Linked DNA regions of Homo sapiens. The protein of the gene in region 3 purifies or fractionates together with the protein of the main gene of each other region. This does not show direct contact. Each region holds a gene or a part of one and is shown on either strand. Other genes may lie near its edges. The genes, in order: VARS1, TANK, LARS1, ATAD3A, SDCCAG8, NDRG3 and TPM1.

What was found.
Region 1: the proteins of LARS1 (region 3) and VARS1 purify together in Homo sapiens (affinity purification with mass spectrometry; 2 studies listed by BioGRID, with this or other methods). This does not show direct contact.
Region 2: the proteins of LARS1 (region 3) and TANK purify together in Homo sapiens (tandem affinity purification; one large-scale study listed by IntAct). This does not show direct contact.
Region 4: the proteins of LARS1 (region 3) and ATAD3A purify together in Homo sapiens (affinity purification with mass spectrometry, with the first as the bait; one large-scale study listed by BioGRID). This does not show direct contact.
Region 5: the proteins of LARS1 (region 3) and SDCCAG8 purify together in Homo sapiens (affinity purification with mass spectrometry; 2 studies listed by BioGRID and IntAct, with this or other methods). This does not show direct contact.
Region 6: the proteins of LARS1 (region 3) and NDRG3 fractionate together in Homo sapiens (co-fractionation; one large-scale study listed by BioGRID). This does not show direct contact.
Region 7: the proteins of LARS1 (region 3) and TPM1 purify together in Homo sapiens (affinity purification with mass spectrometry, with the first as the bait; one large-scale study listed by BioGRID). This does not show direct contact.

The regions. Positions count from the first base shown.
Region 1 is NC_000006.12:31,792,953-31,797,043, reverse strand, and holds the start of VARS1 (valine--tRNA ligase), read left to right. Parts: upstream 1-1,291; 5' UTR 1,292-1,498; exon of another isoform or gene 1,499-1,793; 5' UTR 1,794-1,826; coding exon 1,827-2,213; intron 2,214-3,923; coding exon 3,924-4,058; intron 4,059-4,091. UniProt on the Homo sapiens protein: Catalyzes the attachment of valine to tRNA(Val).
Region 2 is NC_000002.12:161,201,928-161,205,427, forward strand, and holds part of TANK (TRAF family member-associated NF-kappa-B activator), read left to right. Parts: intron 1-1,559; coding exon 1,560-1,668; intron 1,669-2,747; coding exon 2,748-2,866; coding exon of another isoform or gene 2,867-2,899; exon of another isoform or gene 2,900-3,049; intron 3,050-3,500.
Region 3 is NC_000005.10:146,172,651-146,176,150, forward strand, and holds part of LARS1 (leucine--tRNA ligase, cytoplasmic), read right to left. Parts: intron 125-3,500; coding exon 37-124; intron 1-36. UniProt on the Homo sapiens protein: Aminoacyl-tRNA synthetase that catalyzes the specific attachment of leucine to its cognate tRNA (tRNA(Leu)).
Region 4 is NC_000001.11:1,522,162-1,525,661, forward strand, and holds part of ATAD3A (ATPase family AAA domain-containing protein 3A), read left to right. Parts: intron 1-582; coding exon 583-738; intron 739-1,349; coding exon 1,350-1,406; intron 1,407-1,677; coding exon 1,678-1,803; intron 1,804-2,111; coding exon 2,112-2,236; intron 2,237-3,078; coding exon 3,079-3,130; intron 3,131-3,500. UniProt on the Homo sapiens protein: Essential for mitochondrial network organization, mitochondrial metabolism and cell growth at organism and cellular level. May play an important role in mitochondrial protein synthesis. May also participate in mitochondrial DNA replication.
Region 5 is NC_000001.11:243,413,041-243,416,540, forward strand, and holds part of SDCCAG8 (serologically defined colon cancer antigen 8), read left to right. Parts: intron 1-2,661; coding exon 2,662-2,789; intron 2,790-3,500. UniProt on the Homo sapiens protein: Plays a role in the establishment of cell polarity and epithelial lumen formation. Also plays an essential role in ciliogenesis and subsequent Hedgehog signaling pathway that requires the presence of intact primary cilia for pathway activation.
Region 6 is NC_000020.11:36,743,291-36,747,575, forward strand, and holds the start of NDRG3 (protein NDRG3), read right to left. Parts: upstream 2,801-4,285; 5' UTR 2,755-2,800; exon of another isoform or gene 2,209-2,754; intron 1-2,208.
Region 7 is NC_000015.10:63,052,747-63,056,246, forward strand, and holds part of TPM1 (tropomyosin alpha-1 chain), read left to right. Parts: intron 1-3,500. UniProt on the Homo sapiens protein: Binds to actin filaments in muscle and non-muscle cells. Plays a central role, in association with the troponin complex, in the calcium dependent regulation of vertebrate striated muscle contraction.

The DNA.
Region 1 (4,091 bases), on a different chromosome or scaffold from region 3:
ATACAAGTGATGTAATTTATATTTTAGAGAAAAGTTGTGACTGGGAATTACTAAACTTCATTCACTCATTCAGCAAATATGAGTTCATGATACAGATGAGACTTCTCAGCCTTAAGGGACCCTTAGAGACCATCTAGTGTGACCCTCCTTTTTGTTTTTGAGACGGGAGTCTCACTCTGTTGCCCAGGGTGGAGTGCACTGGCTTGGTCTGGCTCACTGCAACCTCCGCCTCCCGGTTCAAGCGATTCTCCTGCCACAGCTCCTGAGTAGCTGGGATTACAGATGCCCACCACCATGCCCGGCTAATTTTTTTTTTTTTTTTTTTTTTTTGAGATGGAGTCTCACTTTGTCACCCAGGCTGGACTGCAGTGGTGTGATCTTAGCTCTGCAATCTCCGCCTCCCAGGTTCAAGTGATCTTCTTGCCTCAGCTTCCCAAGTAGCTGGGCTTACAGGTGTGTGCCACCACGCCTGGCTAATTTTTGTATTTTTACAAATACTGCAGCTCTGTCGCCAGGCTGGAGTGCAGTGGCACGATCTCAGTTCACTGCAACCTCAACCTCCAGGGTTCAAGCAATTCCCTGCCTCAGGCTCCGGGGTAGCTGGGATTACAGGCGCCTGCCACCACACCTGGCTAATTTTTGTATTTTTAGTAGAGACGGGGTTTCACCATCTTGGCCTGGCTGGTCTTGAACTCCTGACCTGGTGATCCACCCGCCCTGGCCTCCCAGAGTGCTGGGATTACAGGCGTGAGACGGGCTTTCACCACCTTGGCCAGGCTAGTCTTGAACTTCTGACCTCAGGTGATCCGCCCACCTCGGCCTCCCAAAGTGCTGGGATTATAGGCGTGAGCCACTGCGCCCGGCCGTCACCCTTTTTTCATACATGAGGAGATGAGGCTCAAAGAGGAAGCTGGACGCCAGGGCCTCGGCAAATGGACCTCCCCTTCGGTCCTCATCAGGCGGCTCCCTGCTGGGCACCTCCCCGCTACCGGGTGGGGAACGCCCTCCACCGGCAGGGCCGGCCGACCCTCTTGGGCCAGTTCCCTAGCTGCCCGCTGGGCGCCGCCCTCGCCACCCGGCCGAGGACCCGCACAAGGTGCCCGTGGCGGCGCCTGACGGGAGCGTCGTGCTCAGGGGTGTCCTCTCGTCCTGCGTCCGCGCCCAGCGCCCCGCGCCCCGCGCTGTTCCTCGTGAGACCGGCGGGCGGCGAGCCGCGCGGCCCCCGGGGCAGTGTCGGACACGGCGGGCGCGCACTCGCAGGCGGGGCACGGCCGCCCCCGCCAGGACCCGCAGGCCCGGAAACGCTCCCTGTCACAAAGGGGGGAACACGTGGGCGCCGGCTGCCGGGGCGGCGATCTTAGGGAACTAGGGTCACCTGGAGAGCCGCCCACCGTCTCTGCCCGCTCGACTCCTCCGCCCGGGCCGCTCGGCCGGTCCAGCCGCGGCCGGCGCCTGGCTGTGAGGTGGATTCCCGGCCCAGTCTGACCATCTCCCTCCAGTACGTACACGCGGCTCGAACCCGCATCCAACCAGACGCCGACCCGCTCCTGAGAGCCTTCCACACTCCCCGAAGCCCCGCGATGGTGGATAGTTCCTCTTCCCCAGGAACTCCCCACTGACACTGCCCCTCTGAGAGCCAGGTCCTCGGCTCCTGACAGCCTGCCTGGTCAGACCCTCAGTCCTATGGGACTCGGGTGTCTGCGGCGAAGGAGCTCCCGTGAGGGTCCCCTCTCTACTCAAACATAGGACCCACCTCGATCCCGCAGTCTTCCCCTGTCTCTCTTTCTCCTTAGGTTTTTCCACTTCGTTCGGACCTTCTCATAACTATGTCCACCCTCTACGTCTCCCCTCACCCAGATGCCTTCCCCAGCCTCCGAGCCCTCATAGCCGCTCGCTATGGGGAGGCTGGGGAGGGTCCCGGATGGGGAGGAGCCCACCCCCGCATCTGTCTCCAGCCACCCCCGACTAGCAGGACTCCCTTTCCCCCACCCCGCCTGCCGGCCCTGGAGCAGGGGCCCGGTGGGCTCTGGGTGTGGGGGGCCACGGCTGTGGCCCAGCTGCTGTGGCCAGCAGGCCTGGGGGGCCCAGGGGGCAGCCGGGCGGCTGTCCTTGTCCAACAGTGGGTCAGTTACGCCGACACGGAGTTAATACCAGCTGCCTGTGGAGCAACGCTGCCGGCCCTGGGACTCCGAAGCTCGGCCCAGGACCCCCAGGTGAGGGGGTTGTACAGAAGAGGGGGAGGGGAGAAATTCAGAGGAGGGAAGCGAGGACTGGAATGGACAATGAGACAAGAAGGTAGTACATCAGATGTGGGAAAAGAGTGATCAAATCCCAGATTGCCAACTGGTATGGTAACCCTGGGCACGTTTCATAGACCCGCTGTGTCTTGGTCTTCCTATGTCTATGAACACGCAGGCAAGTTGATGTAATGCTTGCCTCACTGAGTTAATAGGATTAAAAGATGTGCGCAGAGCACATAGTTTAGTGCCAGGCACTTTTAAAGTCTCTTAGTAAAAGTTTGATGAGTCTGAAATTGATGAGGATAGAAGTTATTTGAATTGTAGGAAAAGACTGGGTGAGGGAGAGATGACAATTGCTGGGAGGAGATAAAAGAGAAATGAAATGAGGAAGGTAAGTGAGAGGAGAGATAACCCTGCCAGATTGTAACTATCAGTCCTTCCAAAGGAGACCTGTGCCTTGGTGTACTTTCAACTCTGCCTCCTTGCATGGTATTGAGCACATGATGGAAAATTAGTATTTCTTGAATGGATGAATGAATGTGGCAGACCCTGACTTGCTCCCTCATATTGTGATCACCCTATCTACAATAGAGTCCTTGCATTCAGAATGTCTGTCCAAACAAACAAATAAAATAGAGTCCCTCTCTTCTGGAATTCCCTGTTTGTTCCCCTCTTTTATTTCTTTTCTTTTCTTTTTTTTTTTTTTTTTTGAGACAGAATCTCCTTCTGTTGCCCAGGCTGGAGTGCCACGGTGCGATGGTGCGATCTCAGCTCACTGCTCAAGCGATTCTCCTGCCTCAGCCTTCTGAGTAGCTGGGATTACAGGCGCCCACCACCTTGTCCGGCTAATTTTTTGTATTTTTAGTAGAGATGGGGTTTTGTCATGTTGACCAGGCTGGTCTCGAACTCCTAACCTCAGATGGTCTGCTCGCCTCGGCCTCCCAAAGTGCTGAGATTATAGGTGTGAGCCACCACGCCTGGCCCCTGTTCCCCTCATTCTGCTTTATTTTTCTTCATAGGAGTTAAGAAAAATAGGGCACTTCATTTTATATTTGCTCATTTGTTGTTCCCCTACAAGAATGTTAACTCTACCAGGTCAGGGTTCTGTCCATCTGTTCGTGTTTTCCTCTCATTCCCTGGAGAAGTACTTAATACATATTTATTGATGTTCTGAACCTGGCAGTTATTGAGATGCCTCATATAATCTTTACTTCTATGCTTAACATATTGCATCTAACACATAAGTATTGAGTAGGGATTTGTTGGATGAGTCAGAAGTGTTTTGTTTTTTTTTTTCTGAGACGGAGTCTCGCTGTGTTGCCCAGGCTGGAGTGCAGTGGCGTGATCTCGGCTCACTGCAAGCTCCACCTCCTGGGTTCATGCCATTCTCCTGCCTCAGCCTCCCGAGTAGCTGGGACTACAGGCGCCCGCCACCACGCCTGGCTATTTTTTTTTTGTATTTTTAGTAGAGATGAGGTTTCACCATGTTAGCCAGGATGGTCTCGATCTCCTGACCTCGTGATCCGCCCAGAAGTATTTTTATTGTGACTATTTGAGTGAAGAAATGGGACTCAGAGGTGGTGATTTGTGAGAGTGGGGTGGAGGGAGGCCACATGGATTGGGTTGTGGTGGGAGATGGAGGTGGGCCAAACCTTGTCTCACACTTCTTCCCCTTCCTGCCAGGCTGTGCTGGGGGCCCTGGGCAGGGCCCTGAGCCCCTTGGAGGAGTGGCTTCGGCTGCACACCTACTTGGCCGGGGAGGCCCCCACTCTGGCTGACCTGGCGGCTGTCACAGCCTTGCTGCTGCCTTTCCGATACGTGAGTCACCAGGCCTGGGGAAGAACAAGACTG
Region 2 (3,500 bases), on a different chromosome or scaffold from region 3:
AATGTAATTGGAATCCGTATTTCCTTTTTTAATTTTTCAGTGAACATATACTGAACATCTCCTATGTATAAGTTACTTAATCCATATGAATTCTGTGGGGAATGTGAAACTATGTAAGACTGCCTTTAGGCAATGTGCAAAGACAATGTACCACATGGGTTGCTTATCAGCTTTGTCAGTTATTCATATTTGGAGTGTATTACTTATAAAAGTTCACCTTTCATTTGGGAAAATGTAGTATTTAGCTCTAATTTCTTTTTTTTTTTTTTTTTTTTTTTTTGAGACAGAGTCTGGATCTGTTGCCCAGGCTGGAGTGCAGTGGTGTGATCTTGGCTCACTGCAAGCTCCGCCTCCCGGGTTCACATCATTCTCCTGCCTCAGCCTCCCAAGTAGCTGGGACTACAGGTGCCTGCCACCACGCCTGGCTAATTTTTTGTATTTTTAGTGGAGATGGGGTTTCACTGTGTTAACCAGGATGGTCTCAATCTCCTGACCTCGTGATCCACCTACCTCAGCCTCCCAAGCTTTAATTTCTTAAGCTAATTTATATTTGCTAATCTATGAACAGCTATGTAATTTATTAAAATTTTTAAGTTTATTGGTCTCTGAAAATAATAGAGCTTCACTAATTTTGAACTTTAAGAATCAGTTTAAAGTGAAATATCTAGTATCTACTGAAGATCATTCTGAGATTATTAGAACTTCATTTTCATTTTATATTTCAAGGAATTTGCAACTTAGTCATTATTTATTTATCCCTCCAGGGATAGAAATTGGTTAAAAAAAGAGTTCTCTGCTATTGTTTGGTGATACGCTTTTAAGACTGTACTAATTTGGTAATTGTGATACAACAGTTTCAAATTTGCTTGAATGTTTGCAGCATCTGTATTCCTCAGTACAAACTTGTGTCTTTTTTCATTGCTTTATTCTCACAGTCACTGCAATAACATAGCAAAATTAATGGATTAACAATATAAGGGAAACTGGCATTTAAGACACCAAAGGTCAACTATATTCTCTTAATTTCTTAAAACTTAGTGGAGAAGTTTCTGGTCAGTATAATTTTATAATTTGCATTTGTCCCTTTGATTTGTATCAACACTTCCTTAGTGTTTGTGTACTCTAAAAATAAATTTAGAAGTGTGTTTATTTGAAAGACACAAAATCTTAATTTTTTAAGTTAGTATGTATTTTTAAAGAATCACTTTAATATAGCATCTGTTGTATCATTTGTGCTTTTTTTTTTCCATTAAGGAATAAATGCTAAATTACAGTTTTGATCCTTACTGAAGGATCAGGAAATCATAGATTGAATCCTTGACTGAAATGTCTTTAAATAAGTTAATCTTTAAAACTTCTGCGGTGCTTTAAGTGTCTTGAATCACTGATGTTTGTAACAATTACAAGTACATTCCTGGAGCCAGTTTGTATCTCATAAATCACAATACCTGCAAAATGACAATGTGGGCAACTCATATCTATTTATATTATCAATGGATGGTAAATATATGTTCATGTCTATCAGTGAATATCAGGCTAACTGGTTTTTATGTCAGCAGACTGAGAACTATGAGCAGAGAATACGTGAACAACAGGAACAGCTGTCACTTCAACAGACTATTATTGACAAGCTAAAATCTCAGTTACTTCTTGTGAATTCCACTCAAGGTATGTTCATGTTAATTTTTTATGTATTTCTAGAACCTCTTGGTGAAAAGAAAGGTGTAAGTTGAGTTTTTCTATTTTATTCCTTCGTTGTTTCTCAATAGTTTTGATATTATAACTGTGGTACAGTTATATGTTATGTTTATTTAAATGAACACTTGCAGGATATGGGAAAGTGGACTTTCACATATACTATACTATATGGTAGAACTCTAAGTTTATAAAACTTCCTAAAAAGCAATTTGCCAGTAAATAGCAGCAAAAGCTTTTGAAAACATCTATGCCTTTTGAACCAAAAACTCAAGTCCTAAGACTATATCATAAGAAAATATTTGTTCAGGTACTCAAAAATATATATGCGAGGATGTGTATCACAGTATAATGTCTAATCATGGAAAGCTAGAAACAAATATTCAGTAGTTACACTGATCTATATGAATAGCTATGTAGCCAAGAAAAGTGATGATAATAGGTATTAACTTGTAAGAATATGTGGACGATATATAGCAAAATGAACAAAGCAGGATACATAAATAAGTGTTTTTTTCATTTATGCAGAAAAAGGTGATTCTTGTGTGAAGTTATATGTATAGGAAAAGAAGAATTCTGATAGAATATATAAACCAAAATATTAACTGGAATAATTCACAGGTGATAAAAATTTGGGTAGCATTTACTTTTTATTCTTTTTGGCTGTCTGCATTTTCTAATTTTCCCATAATAAGCATGGAGTCATAATACAAATAATTATCTTAAATAAGAAACGCATACCTGAAAATGTGAATATAAAAGTTGAATTGTTGCTGACAGATGCAAAGAGCATATTTCTAGTTTTCTAAATTCTGCATATTTTACATACTGCTGGCTTTTGGAGAGCAGGGGTTTTGTGTGTTTGTTTAGTGGGAAGGAAAAAATATAAATGGACAACTTGTCAAAGTAACTATTACCTAAAGAATTTTCTAAAACTCCTACCTTAAAATGTATTCTCTTTATGGTTTTGAGTTTGTATTATTTTTTGCTTTTTCAGGTGGTACCAAAAATAAGGGTTTTCTGCTAATGTCCAAGAGGTTTTTGTCTTGCAGATAACAATTATGGCTGTGTTCCTCTGCTTGAAGACAGTGAAACAAGAAAGAATAATTTGACTCTTGATCAGCCACAAGATAAAGTGATTTCAGGAATAGCAAGAGAAAAACTACCAAAGGTAGACATTGCTTCTGCAGAAAGCAGCATTTAAATGCTGATGCGTGACATAGCTTCCTCATTTTATTTTTCTGAAGTGATCTGCTGGAATTCCAAACAGAAGTTCCATATATACAAATATGTGGCTTAAATATTTCTAAATAGAAGAACTATTTTCAAGTAAAATAAAGGCTGAGGTTTTGTATTTCCTACTGACCGTTTTTCTACATCACAAGCATTTCAACAAAGAAAACATTTAACAAAGAAATAGGGCTGGACACACTGACTCACTCCTGTAATTCAAACACTTTGGGAGGCCAAGGAGGGAGGATCACTTGAGCTCAGCAGTTTGAGACCAGCCTGGGCAACATAGGGGGATCCCTATCTCTATAAAAAATGAAAAAATTAGCCACGCAGAATGGCACACGCCTGCAGTCCCAGTTACTCAGTAGGAGGATTGTTTGGGCCTAAGAAGTCAAGGCTGCTGCAGTGACCCATGATCATGACACTGCATTCCAGTTTGGGTAACAGAGTGAGACCCTATCTCTAAATAAATAAATAAATGAATTAATGAATGAATGCCACATACATATGTACATATATGTGTGTGTGTGGTGTGTGTGTGTATATATATAAACAATGAAATAAAAGATTAA
Region 3 (3,500 bases):
TTCCTCCCCATTATAGCAAACATAGGGAAACATTACCTCACATTTGGATAAAGAAAACGTGTGTCCCAAATGAAGGCGTCCATTCATATATGGATATGGGAAGGTTACAAAATACTTGCCCTTGCTGCAAAACAACAGTATAAAAAAGAAAGTACAGAAGAATAAATGTTAAGTTCCTTTTACAATAAGGAAGTGGGGTGAAGGAAATGCTTGATATAAATAACTTAAGGTTATTTAAAAAATATTTAAAAGTAAATTTATAAATCTACAAATTTAAAACTCTCTAAAATTGAAAATTACTTTAGATTTACAAGAAATAAGACATTGATAGGTTGCTATTAAGAATTAAATAGCCTTGTAACAAATACTAGAGGTTTAATTTGAGCTAAAATACTTGAGTAAAGATAATATACTAGGTCAGGCGTGGTGGCTCACACCTGTAATCCCAACACTTTGGGAGGCCAAGGCTGGTGGACTGCTTGAGGCCAGGAGTTCGAGACCAGCCTGGGCAACATGGTGAAACCCTGTCTCTACTAAAAACTAGCCGGGCGTGATGGCGTGCGCTGATAATCCCAGCTACTCTAGTGGTTAAGCATGAGAATCAAGAATCGCCTGATCATTGAACCTGAGAGGCAGAGGTTGCAATGAGCTGAGATCATGCCACTGCACTCCAGCCTGGGCGAAAATGAGACTCCATCTCAAAAAAAAAAAAATTCTTTAATACCCTTATGAACCTAGGCTAATTTAATATTTTACTGAATAAATGAGATTTGTTTTCACTAGATACTAGATATATATATAAAGCAATTCAAAGTCCCTCAGGTAATATAAAACATCCTCAATATTACTTGATATGTGGTAGATTCACTTTAAACGCATCCTTTAAAGCTTTTTTTTTTTTTTTAATTTTTTAGTTGTTTTTGTAAAGACAGGGTTCTCAATATAAGAACCACCATGAGCATGAGCTCATGAGCCACCATGCTTGGTCTGTATTCTTTTTTCTTATGAAGAATATCTAACATACATACTGTGTTATGAAGCATAATAAAATGAACACTTGTAAACACACCATCTGACTTATGAATCCACTGAAACTACCTGTTTCCTCTCTACTGTCCCACAAGAGATAACCGACATTCTGAAATTTGCTTTTACCGTTCCCTTGTTTTTGAATAGTTTGCACACTTGGCAGCACCCTTAAACTATTTATCATTTAGTTTCGCTCACTTGTGAGTTTCATACAAAAAAAAGGCATACTTCATATAGACTTCTGCAATTTGCCTTCTTCACTTGACATTATATTACTTTCTTCAGTCTTACTGCATACACCTATAGTTAATTCTCTTTCACTAAACAAAGCAGCTTTTTCAGTTCACTTGTAATTATTTTAAATTACCTTAAAGTTAACCAAACCTCTAGAAGAAAATAGAAGCTTCAAATTATAGCTTCAAGTATAACACCAGAGACTATATTACAGCAATTTCTTTTTCTCTTAAAAAAAAAAAAAAAAAAAAAAGGCTGGGGCCTGGTGGCTCACACCTCTAATCCCAGCACTTTGGGAGGCGGAGGCGGGCGGATCACCTGAGGTTGGGATTTCAAGACTAGCCTAACGTGGAGAAAACCCGTCTCTAGTAAAACTACAAAATTAGCTGTGCGTGGTGGCGCATGCCTGTAATCCCAGCTACAGGGGAGGCTGAGGCAGGAGAATCGCTTGAACACGGGAGTCGGAGGTTGCGGTGAGCCGAGATCACACCATTGCACTCCAGCCTGGGCAACAACAGCAAAACTCTGTCTCAAATATATATATATATATCCATATATATATATATATATCCATATATATATATATCCATATATATATATATATATCCATATATATATATATATCCATATATGTATATATCCATATATATATATATCCATATATGTATATATCCATATATATATATATATATATCCATTAGAATATAGCTTAATAAGCAAGGAAAAAAGACTTTTGAATCAGAAAGTCCTAAAAACAAGCCCAGGCCCAGTCAATTCCCAGTGATGTAACCTTGAACTGGTTACTTAGCCTCTCTGTGCCTCAGTTTCCTCAGCTGTAAAAGAGAAATTTTAAAAGCTGTTAACCTTAAAGTATATTGAGAAGATTAAGGCCAGGCATGGTGGCTCAAACCTGTAATCCCAACACTTTGGGAGGCAAAAGTGGGAGGATTACTTGAGCCCAGGAGTTCAAGACTAGCCTGGGCAAGACAGTGAAACTTCATTTCTACAAAAGAAATTTTTTCAATGCTGGGTGCAGTGGCCCATGCCTATAATCCCGGCACTTTGGGAGGCCGGGGTGGGCAGATCACTTGAGCCCAGGAGTTGGGACCAGCCTCAGCAACATAACAAGACCCCATTTCTACTAAAAATAGAAAAATTACCTGGGTGTGGTGGCGTGCGCCTACAGTCCCACCTACTCAGGAGGCTGAGGTGAGAGGATCACCTGAGCCCAGGAGACAGAGGTTGCAGTGAGCTGAGATCACACAACTGCACTCCAGCCTGGGTGACAGAGGCTCGCTCCATCTGACACCACAGACTCTGTCTCCAAATTAAAAAAAAAAAAAAGATAATGGGCGGGCACAGTGGCTCACGCGTGTAATCCCAGCACTTTGGGAGTCGGAGGCAGGCGGATCATTTGAGTTTGAGACCAGACTGGCCAACATGGCAAAACCCCGTCTCTATTAAAAACAAAAATTAAAACTTAGCCAGGCGTGGTGGCATGCACCTGTAATCCCAGCTACTGGGGAGGCTGAGGCAGAAAAATCATTGAACCCGGGAGGCAGAGGTTGCAGTGAGCCGAGATCATGCCACTGCACCCAGCCTAGGCAACAGAGCAAGACTCCACCTCAAAAAAAAAAAAAAAAAGGCCGGGCGCAGTGGCTCACGCCTGTAATCCCAGCACTTTGGAAGGCCGAGGCAGGCAGATCACGAGGTCAGGAGATCGAGACCACAATGCAACCCCATCTCTACTAAAAATACAAAAAAATTAGCCGGGCATGGTGGCAGCCGCCTGTAGTTCCAGCTACTCAGGAGGCTGAAGCAGGAGAATGGCGTGAACCCGGCAGGCGGAGCTTGCAGTGAGCCGAGATTGCGCCACTGCACTCCAGCCTGGGTGACAGAGCAAGACTCCGTCTCAAAAAAAAAAAACAAAAACAAAAAAAATTAAAAGGTAAAATGAGGCCAGGAGTGATGGCTCATGTCTTATAATCTTAAGAGCTTTGAGAGGCCAAGGCAGAAGGATCACTTGAAGCCAGGAGTTTGAGACCAGCCTGGGCAACATAGCAAGACCCTGTCTCTAAGAAAAAACAAATTAGCCAGGCATGGTGGCGCATGCCTGTAGTCCCAGCTACTCAGAAGGCCGAGGAAGAAGGATTGCTTGAGCTCGGGAGTTTGAAGTTACAGTGAGCTATGACTGTGCCACTGCACTCCAGCTTGAATGACACAGCAAGACTTTGTCT
Region 4 (3,500 bases), on a different chromosome or scaffold from region 3:
CCCAAGTAGATGGGATTACAGGCATGTGCCACCATGGCCAGCTAATTTTTTGTATTTTTAGTAGAGACGGGGTTTCTCCATGTGGGTTAGGCTGGTCTTGAACTCTTGACCTCAGGTGATCCACCTGCCTCAGCCTCCCAAAGTGCTGGGATTACAGACCTGAGCTACTGTGCCCAGCCAGCCTAATTGATTTTTAAAACGAGTTAGAGATTTTGGGTTAGTCTTGTTTTCCAGGAATAAAGTACCATTTTTAGTGGCCAAGAATGTACCAGAGGGTGTGGCCCTGTGACATCCGGCTGGGTCTGTCCAGGGCCCCGCTCAGCGACCGAGGCTTTCTAGGATTTATGCTGCCAGTTGCAGAGAAAATGGCCCTGAGTGAGGGCGCTGTGACTGCCCCACCTGCCTCCTGTAACCGCGTGGCTGTGGGATTCGGGGCCGGGAATTCGCGTTCCTGTGGGGCCAGTGCACGGCCCTGTGCTTCTCCCTCGGGCGGAGAGAGGGTGGGGGCAGCCCCGTGCGTCTCCTGCTCTAAGAGGGAGGGACGGTGGGGGCCGGTGCGCCAGTGCGGTGTCTCTGCTGCAGGTGGCTGGGCTGACGCTGCTGGCTGTTGGGGTCTACTCAGCCAAGAATGCCACGCTTGTCGCCGGCCGCTTCATCGAGGCTCGGCTGGGGAAGCCGTCCCTAGTGAGGGAGACGTCCCGCATCACGGTGCTTGAGGCGCTGCGGCACCCCATCCAGGTAGCAGCGCAGGCCTGGCCCTCCCTGAGTGCAGTTCCTGGCTGAGTCCCTTCTGCCCCACGAGCACAGCCCACGCACACCCTCCCGTCCCTTCCCTTTCCCCGGATAACGGGCACCCGCACACTGCTTCACGGGTGGGTTTTCCTGTCTGGCGCTGTACCTTAGGGGTCTGCATCAGTGAGACCCTTCCCCTGTCTGCCTCGGTGTCCCCTGCTCAGGGCTCTTGATGGGGCCTGGGAGCACATCGGGGTCCTTGCAAGACCCGGGACTTGGGTGTGCGGCCGTCTATCAGGGAAGCTGCTACAGGCCACGGCGTCTGGTGGCCTCCCTGGGGAGCCGCGCCGCTCGCCGCCCCCGAGGTGCCTGCTCTCCACAGGTCACTGGGTAGGTGGTTAAGAAAATAAAAGCCAATAAGGAACCGGAAAATGCCCCTAATCCCAGCAATAGCCGCCTGGTCTCCGGGCGGGGCAGGGTTCCAGCTCCGGGCCGGTCCTGGCTGTGCTTTGGGGCAGCTCCGTTTCTGCGTGTTACCGAGCGTGTGTGTGCGCGTTGGTGGCTGTTCCGTGGCTGTGGCAGGTGACCCGATGGCGCTTCCCCTTCCCCTCCGGCAGGTCAGCCGGCGGCTCCTCAGTCGACCCCAGGACGCGCTGGAGGGTGTTGTGCTCAGTGTAAGTCGGTGTGCCTGGGACCGGGGAGGCGCAGGGAGGGGACCCTGGAGCTGGGCCGGGCTGTGGCCCTTGCTGGCGCTCGTGGTGGCACCCAGGAGCTTTTGGGTCCTGAGATGCGACTGCTTGGACCGTGCTGGGGATAGATAGGCTGCCCCTGAGGTGGGAGGCTTCCCGAGGAGCCGAGTCTGCACCCAGGCATTCCCGCAGCCCCTTCCCCTGAGGCTTCCATGGGTGCACAGTGTCTCCTCCAAACCCCCGTCTTCCCCGGCAGCCCAGCCTGGAAGCACGGGTGCGCGACATCGCCATAGCAACAAGGAACACCAAGAAGAACCGCAGCCTGTACAGGAACATCCTGATGTACGGGCCACCAGGCACCGGGAAGACGCTGTTTGCCAAGGTGAGAGCGCCTGGCTGAACAGGTGGGCCAGGGGCCGCTGGGGTCTCACCTGCCTGCAGGTGTCTGGGGGGCTCAGCTGCCTGGGGAATGGACCCCCCTTAGGCCTTTGCCCACCCTCGTGTAGGCTCAGGGTGCTGGTGTGGGCAGCAGCGCCTCCCATCTTCCAGGCGGGGGACGTCTCCTGTCTGGCAGGCTGTGGCTTCCAGGCAGGGACGCTGGGCAGAGCCTCCACACTCCGGGTGGAGTGTGCAGGCTTTGCAGAGGCGGAGGGAACATCTGCTCTGTCTCCCCTCACTCTTCCTGTCCAGAAACTCGCCCTGCACTCAGGCATGGACTACGCCATCATGACAGGCGGGGACGTGGCCCCCATGGGGCGGGAAGGCGTGACCGCCATGCACAAGCTCTTTGACTGGGCCAATACCAGCCGGCGCGGGTGAGACGTCCCCACAGCATGCACCAGGCCCTTGGCTGCGGCCCAGCAGGCTGCCTTCTGGGAAGGGGGTCCAGGTGTCTCTTGGGGACCCTGTCTTTCTGCAGCTCTGTCCTTGTGGCCACGCAGGAGGCCCAGTGGAGGGTCCCTCGGAGGGAAAGTCCCCTGAGTGTGGACCCTGGTGGACACGAGGCCCCCAGCGTGTGGAGGCTGCCAGTGGGATACTTGGCTCAGGGCAGAAGGGAGGTGGGTGGGTGCAGGGGGAGAGGAGTCTTCACAGCTGCAGGGGAGGCTCCTCCACAGCCGCCCTCCCCCCAACACGCCTGCAGGTGGGCGTGGGCACTGGTTGCCTTTTCTAGAACCATTTGAAAGTTAGCTGAAGACAGCATGGCACACTCCCTTCAATAGGTCCCACAGTGACCCCGCGCAGGGCACAGCCCGGGCACCCTTGTGGCCTCGGCTGTCCTCGTTGGAACCACGATGCTCATGGTTGGCACCCTCCCCTCTGGCCTTTGACCTTTCACTTTAGAAGACCTGTCCCTGTCGTGGACTCTAAGCGGCCACCAGTGCTGCACTGGGCCGGGTGGGGGTGAAGCCTGTGGGGCGGAGTTCGTCGCCCCCGTGTGTGGTTGGTTTCCCACGGCCTTCTGAGGCTGGGCCGTGGTCAGCTGCCCAGAGGCCAGGCTGATCGGCTTCTGTCGAGTCCAGGACTTAGGGCTGCTGATGGGGCAGAGCCTGACCCCGTGGGGATCTGCCTGCTTGGCCTGCTCCTGCCGCGGCCGGACGCTGCTGTGGGCTGCTCCTGGTGTCACTCTCGCCCTGCTTGGCCTCCCTCTCGTTCACAGCCTCCTGCTCTTTGTGGATGAAGCGGACGCCTTCCTTCGGAAGCGAGCCACCGTGAGTGTCACTAAGCCTCTGGCCACAATGGGGTGGTGGGGTGGGCACAGCCGTCTGCCTGGGCCAGGCTGCAGCCCTCTGTTCAGTTTCTTTTTCTCTGTAAGCTTTGTGTGAAAAACAGCTTTTTTTTTTTTTTTTTTTGAGAAGAAATCTCGCTCTATCACCCAGGCTGGAGTGCAATGGCCCCATCTCGGCTCACTGCAAGCTCCACCTCCCAGGTTCACGCCATTCTCCCGCCTCAGCCTCCCAAGTAGCTGGGACTACAGGCTCCCGCCACCACACCTGGCTAATTTTTTGTGTTTTTAGCAGAGACGGGGTTTCACCGTGTTAGCCAGGATGGTCTCGATCTCCTGACCTCGTGATCCTCCCG
Region 5 (3,500 bases), on a different chromosome or scaffold from region 3:
TAATGTATAGTTTCCCAAATAGAGGGAAATTTGGGGAAGGATTCGAGAAACATCAGTTGATGTGTAACTCAACATTTGTTGGTAGAAGTCTTTTAAATTGTTTTATTTTATAAAAAGGACTTCAATTATGACAGTAGTTCTTTTCTATAGTCAATTTATTTTTTATTTTTATTTATCTATTTTGAGACAGAATCTCACTCTATCACTCAGGCTGGAGTTCAGTGGCACAATCTCTGCTCGCTGCATCCTCTACCTCTCAGGTTGAAGTGATTCTGATGCCTCAGCCTCCCAAGTAGCTGGGATTACAGGCATGCACCACCACGCCCAGCTAATTTGTGTATTTTTAGTAGAGATGGGGTTTTGCCTTGTTGGCCATGCTGATCTCTAACTCCTGGCCTTAAGTGATCTGCCCACCTTGGCCTCCCAAAGTGCTGGGATTACAGATGTGAGCCACCGTGCCTGACCTATAGTCAATTTAGAATATCAGTAATTAGGCAGCTTATTCTAAAGAATGATGGTGAGATTGACAACCCCTTTACATTGGGGAACTGTAAGTACCAGTTTGTGATGGGTAGTTTCAGTTGTGACTGTTATCTTGGTATAATTATTAATAGTGCCCCTTTCACTTTCAGATGGGTATTGGTGTTGGAGAATGCATTTATGTCACCCAATTGTTAGGGGTTGCAGAGCCCCAGATTTCTATCTCTGGCTCCTGCCCCGGCAGGGGGTCTGACTTGGGGATGGTCTGACAGGGCTTTTTGTTTTTTTAGCTGACTCCTTTAGCAGCACGGTCTCCAGCTGGCAGAGCCATTAGAACCATTCTCTTCTAAGCACCTTTTTCTAACACGTCTGAAAAGTTTTTGCCTCCTCTCGTAAGACTTAAGCAGATTCTCCAGCTACACGTTAAGATAGCAGCCTTCCTTTCCCCTATGACAAGAGTATAACAACATCCAATCATGAAATATTCACCACCCACTTCCTGTGTGCCAAGCACTGAGGCTGGGCTGAGGGTATAGAGAGATAAAGATGACAAACGAAGCAGACATGTTAAACAATAACTAAAGTGTGATAAATACTATCTTTGTACGATGTACACAACATATATTGAGGTCATTGAGGGAAGAATAGTTAATTCAGGAGAGAGGAAGGAGAGGGGAAGAATTTTGAGTTAGGCCTGAAGCGGGTAGTTGTATGTATACATCTTACAGGGGGATTGAGTGGGCAGGTGGAGGGGCTTTCCAGGAAGAGGAAGAGACATGTGCAGTGATCCATGGCCAGAAAATACATGGTGTGACTGGGGAGGCAAAAAGTAGCCTAGTCTGACTATCCATTTGTTGTATATACTGGTTTGGAACCGAGTGCGACGCAAGACCTTGGACCACATCCCGGGGGGAGGTGTTGTTATTAGAAGTACCAGACAGGACCTTATTTCACATTTAGCATGGACCCCCGATGATTCCATTTGAGTGAGGTGTGGGTGTATTTTCATTCCAGAATTTTATACTACAACATGACCACATGCATTGACCAATTTTAATACAGGCTTTCCTTATGTTGCTTTATAATTAGAAGCCAGTGAATTGAAGTTCCACAGCGGTACATAGACTAGTAGTGATAGCTTTATGGAATTGTTTATTTTTAGTTTGGCAAAGGCTAAGCAGTAAATATCTCAATTAGTAAACTAAAGCAGCATGGATGAGAAATGCCCGCAAGGAGATCAGGAGTTAGAAATAACTAAGTCAGTTAATTGAAGGAAACCCTAATATCACTTACCCATATTTAGAGTTTGAAGAACCATTCTAATATGTGTGTGTGTGTGTGTGTGTGTGTGTGTGCACATGTACATGCACACACACACTGTCAGTATCCACAGTGCTGCCAGCATTGAGGTCCTTTGCATTCCCCAGGTTCTAATTGTTTAGGAAGTTTCTCTCTTTGGAGCCACTGTGCTTGGTTATTGACCCAGTGGGATAGGTCAGTGTCCTATCACAGTACGATGGGTTGTTGTCTGACTACAGAAGCTTTTCATCCTGCAATTTCTTTCAATGTGACCCACGAGGGATTTTATTATGAAGTGCTGGGGGAAGTTATTCGTATTCATATTTGTATTCATATTCACATTATATGGCCTGATGTGTGAAGATATTTAGTGAAAACATGAATGTGGCACTGCAGAATCATTTACTCGCCTCTAGATAGAGGCTCCTGCATTATATTTAAGATTCCATTTTAAGTTTAGAGTGAAAACAGAGGTGGTCTACAAAGCTTAGTTTTAAGAATTTAAGTTTTGTTCCTAGAGTTCCAGTATCTCTGGGAAAGATTGACCACTCAGAAGATGAAACATTCATTGATAGTGTAAAACATTAAGAATATTAGAGAAAAAAGTTTTGTGTTTTAAAGTTACAAAATACCATTATTTAGTTGTTATGATGTTTTGACACTGCACACTTTAGTCCATTTGGATTCATGGCACGTATTTAACACTGTATGGAAGGTTGTTTGGATCTTCCCCCTAAAGTGGGGGAGGGTCATTAGAAAGGTCCTTGTCTTCTTATGCTTAACAATTTACTACGTATCAGCTCTCTCTGGTCTATAGGGGACATGATGGGGGTTTGTGCATCTGCAGATTAAATTTCTGTATGTCTCCTCTCTGTTTTGCAGACAGGAAAAAGATAGCATTCAGCAGAGCTTTAGCAAGGAAGCAAAGGCCCAAGCCCTTCAGGCCCAGCAAAGAGAGCAGGAGCTGACACAGAAGATACAGCAAATGGAGGCCCAGCATGACAAAACTGGTAGGTGGTAGGGAAAGATTAGAGCCTGGGCACTAGCTCACAAGTCAGGCCCACGCCTTACTGTGAAATGACATCAGGAACACCTGTAACCTTTGGCTGGCCGAAGGGAGCAGATGCTAACTACACCGGAGATTCCGAATTACATATTAGTTAGCGTTTAAAAGAGAAAATGGAAAGTATTGCCCACTGTCTGTTGATTTCAGAGTGCTGCTCTCACATCTGTTGCACCATCTGGATTATGAGTTTATTTACCTGTGTTCAAGAAACGTAAAGCTGAGAGAGACCACAACAAAGTAGAAAAACAAAGGGCTTGTTTTTGGCTGGGTTTTCAGGCACACATGTTATATAAAGAAAATAGCATCAGAAGCTCTGCGGGAAATGCTCTGAGCTTACAGTTAGAGTCTCCTGAATAGCATTGAACAGTTCCCACAGTACACACATTATAGCTACTCTAAAAGCCTAATGAGTTTGCTTCAGCATCCAAACTGGAGAAAAGCTTTAGCCATTAATCGGTTCTTAATTCACTGTCGCAGCTGGATGTAATTCAGTGGCTCCAAATTGATATGTTCCTTTATTTAATCTTTGCAGCTTCGAACATTTTTAGCATTTGTATGATTTCCCCACCTCCCCCAACCCAATCTAGAGTGATGTTTAATCCTTTGCATTCTTCAAGTTCTCACAACTGCTGTTAAAATTCACTAATACAAGGCA
Region 6 (4,285 bases), on a different chromosome or scaffold from region 3:
CAAGACCAGCTTGGCCAACATGGTGAAAATCCGTCTCCACTAAAAATACAAAAAATAGCTGGGCATGGTGGCGGGCGCCTGTAATTCCAGCTACTTGGGTGGCTGAGGCAGGAAAATCGCTTGAACCCAGGATGCGGAGGTTGCAGTGAGCCGAGATTGCGCCACTGCACTCCAGCCTGGGCAACAAGAGCGAAACTCCGTCTCAAAAAATAATAATAATAATAATAAAACAAAAGCAGCTCGGCCTGGCTTGGTGGCTCACGCCTGTAATCCCAGCACTATGGGAGGCCGAGGCAGGCGGATCACGAGGTCAGGAAATCGAGACCATCCTGGCTAACACGGTGAAACCCTGTCTCTACTAAAAAAATACAAAAAAAATTAGCTGGGGGTGGTGGCGAGCACCTGTAGTCCCAGCTGCTCAGGAGGCTGAGGCAGGAGAATGGCGTGAATCTGGGAGGCGGAGCTTGCAGTGAGCCGAGATGGCGCCACTGTACTCCAGCCTGGGCAACAGAGCGAGACTCCGTCTCAAAAAACAAACAAAAACAAACAAAAAACAAACAAAAAACAAAAGCAGCTCAATCGTGAGTGCACGTTCAAGTAACATAAACAAGCTTTTTTTTTTTTTTTTTTTTTGAGACGGAGCTCTGTTGCCCAGGCTGGAGTGCAGTGGCGCGATCTCGGCTCACTGCAAGCTCCAGCTCCCGGGTTCACGCCATTCTCCTGCCTCAGCCTCCCGAGTAGCTGGGACTACAGGCGCCCACCACCACACGCGGCTAATTTTCTGTTATTTTTTAGTACAGACGGGGTTTCCCCGTATTAGCCAGGATGGTCTCCATCTCCCGAACTCGTGATCCACCCACCTCGGCCTCCCAAAGTGCTGGGATTACAGGCGTGAGCCGCAGCGCCCGGTCCATAAACAGGCTTTTTGATGCAAGACTCTTATCTGCAAGTTTTCAAAAACAACAGGGTGGATGGAGGCCTTTGAGTGGTAAATGGTGATGACAAGTTTAATCTGAAGGAAGAGACAAGCAAAGAGAAACTGAAGGGCAGGAAGGAGGAACAGAAGGGCACCAGAAGAACACCACGCTTTGAGTAATGAAAAGGGGGGGTGGAAATTAACTGAGTCCTTACCAAGGATCTACTGTGAGCCAGGCATCTGGAGCTGCAAAGATGGACCATGCCCTCAAGGGGCTAGAAGTCCGCAGGGTAAGACTGAGGCTAAGACCCTGTTTTGTGAACGTGTAATTCTAATTGGGAAAATCAAGCAGGGAAGGCTTCACAGAGAAGGTGGTGATTTAGTGGAGCCTTTGAAATGTGGAGGAGGATTTGCTAAGGGAGAAAAACGACAGTTTGAGCTAGTTATTTTGGGGGAGAAACATTCACATATTTTTATAGCTGTTCATTTGGAACTTTAAATCATGGGAGGCTTCTTAAATTCAGCACCACTCTATCAATGTTCTCTTTCTCTTCTTGCTTTATCTTAAATACTGAAATGTTCAAGCCCAACCTTGGGGCAAAGGCAGAAAGCCTCGGACAGAAAGCCCCGGAATGAGGTGAGTGCTAGCCAAATCTGCTCTGTCACCTCCAAGTCCAGCCCGCCCAGCTAGCCCAGTCAGCCCAGTCCTGCTCTCTTGGCAGGAAAGGAAGGCTAATAATATCCCCTGAGGGCCAGGGTAAGGGGGGGGGGGGGCGCGGCGGGGGTGATCTGGATGCCAGCAGGCAAGGATCACTCTTGTTCTGTCAGTAAGCCACCAAAGGAAAGCTTCCCTGCTTCCTAATCCACGGGGCTCCTAGTCTACCTGTGATAGGGAGGCCAGCTCTGCAGGAAGAAAAAAAGGGCTTCATGACAAGGAAGGGGGAAGCATTTGGATTGGGAAGTGCAGAGGTGGTTATGCGAGGTTATCTTAATAAAATGCTTAGCAAGATCCCTGGCACACAGCGAGCGGTGGAAGAACGTTAGCTCTTATATTAATAACACTATTATTATTACAGTAACACCTCAATTGTACTCCGACAACAAGAAAATCTTTTTTGTGCAGCCTACTTTTACGACGTTCGAGAGCAACTTCAGAGATGACAAGTGATTTCAAAATTTTTTCAAAGGTACGAGATCAAATTCCAACCGCACTGGCCTGAGAGCCCGAGACCCTGAGTTGAGAGCTGACCCTGCCACTTGTCAGCTGCGTGACCTTGGGCATGGCACTTCACCTTTCCGTGCCTCAGTTTCCTCGGCTGTTAAGTGGGGCTAAGAAGCCTCTCCCCGGTAGGGTAGTCGTAGGGTCCCGTTAGAGGATGCCCTCTGCTGCTCTGGGGCCGGACGGGTGCAAGGGCTGCTCACGGCCCCTCTTCCAAGCATCTGGGCTCTTGGAGCGGGCGAGGTAGATGGATGAGCAACCCCAAGGCCCACCAAGCTCTGCCGCCTGCAGAGCCAGAGCGAGAGAAGGGTTCGCGCCTGCGGGGGGCGTCCCTGTGACCCAGGGTGTTGAGCCCGGAGGGAGGCTCTCTTGCTACCCACACGCTGTCGCCGGCGGGCTGGGCGCGGGGAGCGGCCGAGGAAAGCCGGGCTGACCTGGGTCCGGCGGGCGGGCGGGGCGGGGCAGAGGGCCCCGGGGGCACGGGGGAGGCAAGCAGCACGGGCCACCAGGGCCTCGCCGTGCCGCGGAGATGATGCGGGGAAGGAGCAGGGCAAAGGAGCGACGCCCCCGAATGCGGCGCCGCGCGCCCCCCGCGGGCCGGGCGGAGGCGCTCACTCACCTGAGGCGCGGGCACCCGCCGTCAGTGCAGCAGCAGCGGCGGCGGCGGCGGCGGCGGCGGCGGCGGCGGCGGCGGCGAGAGGGGCGGGGGAGGTGCTGCGGTCCGCGCAGGCGCGCCGAGGACGCCAGGGCGGCGCATGAGTGCTGTGCCCGTCCACCTCGGGAACTACCGAGAAGATGGTGGCTGAGCCAGGAGAGGCCGGCGGCGCCATCTTTGATGTAGTTTTTCTTGCTGCGGAGTTTCCTCAGAGAAGAATCTCAGATTTTGGAGGCGCTGGGCGGCAGGGCCATTGAGCTCTGCGTCTGGAGCGCTTCCCTCAGTTCCCTGAGTCGCATCCTTATGAAGCCCCTAAGAGCTCTTGCAGGGTATGGCATCCTCCTTTTAAGGTGACCTAGAGCCATACCCAAGGTCACAGGGCGCCTAGCACAGTGCTCGGCACGTGGAAAGAGCTTAGTAAATTTTTGGTGAATGAACATAGTAATTTAAGAACTAGAGTCCAAGACTCAGGGCTCCGAATTACCAGTCCTCCATTGTATCACCCCTATTACAACCGTCAGCCAAATCATCTACTTTCTTGAATGCAACATTAGAGATGGAATTTTTTTTCCCAGAATGATTGCAGATATTAAACTTAATGACCCAACAATTTAACACCAAAATGTACAGGACACACTCTTCCTCTATTTATTATCTATTATTTCTTTACCATTAAGTACCACTGACTAAAAGTTTTTTTGTTTTGTTTTGTTTTGTTTTTTGAGACGGAGTCTCACTCTGTCGCCAGGCTGGAGTGCACTAGCGCGATCTCGGCTCACTGCAACCTCTGCCTCCTGGGTTCAAGCGATTCTCCTGCCTCAGCCTCCCGAGTAGCTGGCACTGTAGGCGTGTGCCACCGGGCCTGGCTAATTTTTCTATTATTAGTAGAGACGGGTTTTCACCGTGTTGGCCAGGATGGTCTCGATCTCTTGACCTCGTCATCTGCCCGCCTCGGCCTCCCAAAGTGCTGGGATTACAGGTGTGTGAGCCACCACGCCCTTTTAACCCGAGCCAGTGTCGCCATCTCGGCTCAGGTTCCCAAGTCCCTCAGCCTCCCAAGTAGCTGGGACTAGAGGCGGGCGCCACCATGCCTGGGTAATTTTTGTATTTTTTTTTTTTTAGTAGAGATGGGGTTTCACCATGTTGGCCAAGCTGGTCTCAAACTCCTGACCTCAAGCAATCCGCCTGCTTCTGCGTCCCAAAGTGCTGGGATTACAGGTGTGAGCCACCACGCCCGGCCACTAAAAGCATATTCTTTTAATTAAGGCAAACTGAACAAATGAATATTACCAAACATCTCAGAGGGCAGCAATAATATTGTTATTCATCAAGCACAATTCTTGAACTGAATTTAGTTGGAAGGAAAACTAACATTAATTGAGCACAGCCATTTATTTTATGGTTTATGTTCGTTAACATTTACTGAATTCAAATTAGTTCTAGTTCACCATCCACTATTTATCCCTATGTCCTTGGTTAGACAATTAAGTCTCTC
Region 7 (3,500 bases), on a different chromosome or scaffold from region 3:
ATATTGAAATAAGCTCAAAACTTAAAAAAAAAAATACCAGAAATAAAAGCTAGTAAAGGTGAGAGGTGTGGGGCTTTTGGAACATAGAGCATAATAAATCAGAATAAAAAGTAAAAATAAGAAAGAGAAAAAAGTGGCCCTGATTAAATTATAAAATTAAGCATATCTTGAATTCTAACGAGCCAAACAAAAATTCTACTAGGCCAGTATAATAGGGCCTGCAGAGCCTGTCATGGGTTCAGGGTTTTCCCATAAAGATAGGTGTACCTCAGATACTACTCCTAGGTCCTGGCTTTAACCTCAAAGCCCCTCTGCCTGTCCTGCTCTGAAACCTCTGGGGCAGTAGGCATTGACTTCTGGGCTAGGGAGTAAATGTTCCGTGTCCTTATGTGAGCTTCCTATTACCCATTAGCATTGTTTTATGAAGTTTTCAATTTTATATCCTGCCTCATTTCAAAAAGATTGTGATAATCACTTTAGCAGATGATTTGCATTGCAGCAACTGTTCTCCCAGTCCTGGTTAGGATCTGTGCCTGAGGCCTTTTGTGGGGAGTTGGGGTGGGGGCCGGAGAACATCTCAATCTGATCTCAGGAGAGATAAAGACACAGGAGTGAGAACTGCCAGTTCCAAGGTTTCCGTGATGTTCCGGGAAGCCAGGAGAAGTGACATAGTGGAGAGCCGGCATGCTGGGAGCCTAGTGACTTGGATCTTAATCCTGTCTCACACTGATGGCTGTATGGCCTCCACATACTTCTGTGCCCAGGGTCAGAGTTCCCTCCTGCCGCCTGTTTCTAGTCAAGAGCTAGAAGAATAGCCAGCTTCTTTGGGTGGTGGCAAAGGGGATTGTTTATTTATAGTACAGATTCCTGCCCTCCCCCTTTGACCTCCTGAATCAGAATCTCTAGGGACACGGCCTGGAAGTTTGATTTTTTTTTTTTTTTTTTTGTTTTTGAGACAAGAGTCTTGCTCTGTCGCCCAGGCTGGAGTGCAGTGGCATGATCTCGGCTCACTGCAGTCTCTGCCTCCCGGGTTCAAGCAATTCTCCTGCCTCAGCCTCCTGAGTAGCTGGGATTACAGGCATGTGCCACCATGCCTGGCTAATTTTTGTGTTTTTTGTAGAGACGGGGTTTCACCATGTTGGTCAGGCTGGTCTCGAACTCCTGACCTCATGATTGCCCGCCTCGGCCTCCCAAAGTGCTGGGATTACAGGCGTGAGCCACAGCGCCCAGCTGAAAGTTTTTTTTTTAATGCTCATCTCTGAGTTGATTCTGACACTCAGCCACTTGTGGGAATTGCTGATCTGGACAATGCCTAGGGATCCTTCTAGCTAAAAAATTGAGACCCTATTTTTTGGATTTACAGGGCCTCCTCAGGAAGGGGCAGCCACTCTCAGGTCTGCTGTGTGTGCCCTACCATTCCTCCCACTATATCACAAACTGGCACCTAGAAACTGGTCTCCATGCCCAGTCGTTGCTGGGGCACCCTGTATGAAGCCCTGCTGGCTGGTATTCCTGTAGGACATATTCTCTGATGTCCAGGAGTCTGAGGTTCTACAGAATGCCCCTGGGGAAACAAGAGTGGCATTTAGACAACAGCATTCTGTAAACACAGTGCCAAGAGCTAAGGGAAAGAATGGGGGTGGGGGTGATCGGAGGGAAGACACGGATGGATTGGTAGGGGCCCTTTGGGTAGGAAGATCTCATGTGCAAGGCTGGAATGAACATGAGGTGCTGTTTCCTTCCTTTCTGGTGACTCGGCTGTGTGGGGAGCTGGGGATAGAGACCTGTCACCCAGAGGGTTCTTTCCCCAAAGCATAAACAGTCGTCTTTCTGTGAGTACAAAGTCCTTGAGGTTCAGGCCCAGATCTAAAGCAGAGCAGAGAACTTGGAACTTGGTAGCTACAAAAAAGTTTTGAAAATCTTGCTGGCATTTCTCTAATAGGCCATAGCCTCTGTAACAAGGATATTTGCCATCATATTGAAAATGATAAGAAAGGGGGAAAGAAAAGAAAGTGTACAGTGCTTTTGAGTACATAACCTAGACACTCTATGGAGGCTTTTTGTTGTTGTAGGGCTTTTGGTTTGTGTGCTTGGTTTTTTTGTGTGGCTTTAAATTTTGTTTTGTTTTGTTTGCCCTTTGTTTTTGCTTCCGCTTTGAGTCTCCCCCCCACCCTCAAAAGGAATAGAATTTTACTGGAAAATGAAAATATAGAAAAGTGAAGAAATCTTACCTGACCCAAAAGTATATCCTTAATATATACATCCTTCCAGTAATAGTAATAAAAAAAAAAAGCCTAATGGTTTTTAAAAGACACTTCCCTATAATTGAGAGATTTGTTATCCTATTACCCTCACCCTTCAATACACACACACACCAGAAACAACAGTCATCTGCCAGTAATTCCTAGCTGGGTCCATTTACCAGCTGTGCACTGATAATGATTTACTTTGTAGGCAGTACAGTTGTAAATGCTCTTCCTCTGATTTATTTCACATTTGCCCTGCTCCCTGCCTCCATCAACCAATTACTACATTTTTGTCAAGATAAAAGTGTATTTACATGTTTTTATAGAGTCCTTCACCGTGGTTGGAGATGCCCTACTCACCTCTCTTCCCAGATAAAACTTGGCATTTAAAATCTTACAAATCTAGGTGAGCAAAGAGCTGAAGGTTCTCAGATTCCTTTGATTAAAGACTATGACCACAGTTTCTAACTACATTTGCATTTCCAACTCTGTATTGTGGATCCATAAGCTGAGAACGTTGCTTTTATTAAAATTAGGTTGGTTTTACTCATCTTACTGAGCCCATACTCTGTGCAGAGAACTGTGAGTTCTCTGGATGTGAGCAGCTTACAGTTCAATGACAAAGACAGGGCTGTGTGTAGAGAAATTTGTTATCCTATTACCATGGGTCCCTAAGTGTGTATTGTAATTTCTAGAAAACTCCTAAGTGTTCTGAAAACCCCACCACCCCTTAGTGAACATACATTCAAAGTGGATGAGGATATTTTACCTGATTAGTAAATTCCATCTCCCACTTCCATGCACAATATTTAAACAGCCACCAGTGCAAGTGTGTATAATGGACCATCATAGTCTTATAAGTGTTCTGAGGCTCATAGCAACAATTTCTTATGACAGGAAAAAAATCATTGCCTCTCAAAGAAACCAACATTTTATTTCAGTGACAGATACCAAGTAAAAACAGTACTTGTATTATTTTTCTTTTTAGGAGTTTGATACTTTTCTTGTATTAACCTTGACTTCAAAGAAAAATCATAGGCTTACATCAAAAACACTTGGGAAATTTGTCTTGGCTCTGTTCCAATGAGGCCAGTTATTCTAAAAGGGGTTACTGGATTGTGTTGGGCCTTCATGTGGTGTGTATTTTAGAACCACTGAATTTTAAACTATTTAAGTTCCTTTGTAAGGATCCTATGATAAAGTGGCTTGAAGGAAAGAGTTGAGTGAAACTCTTGAGTCCGATTTCTGGCTGTA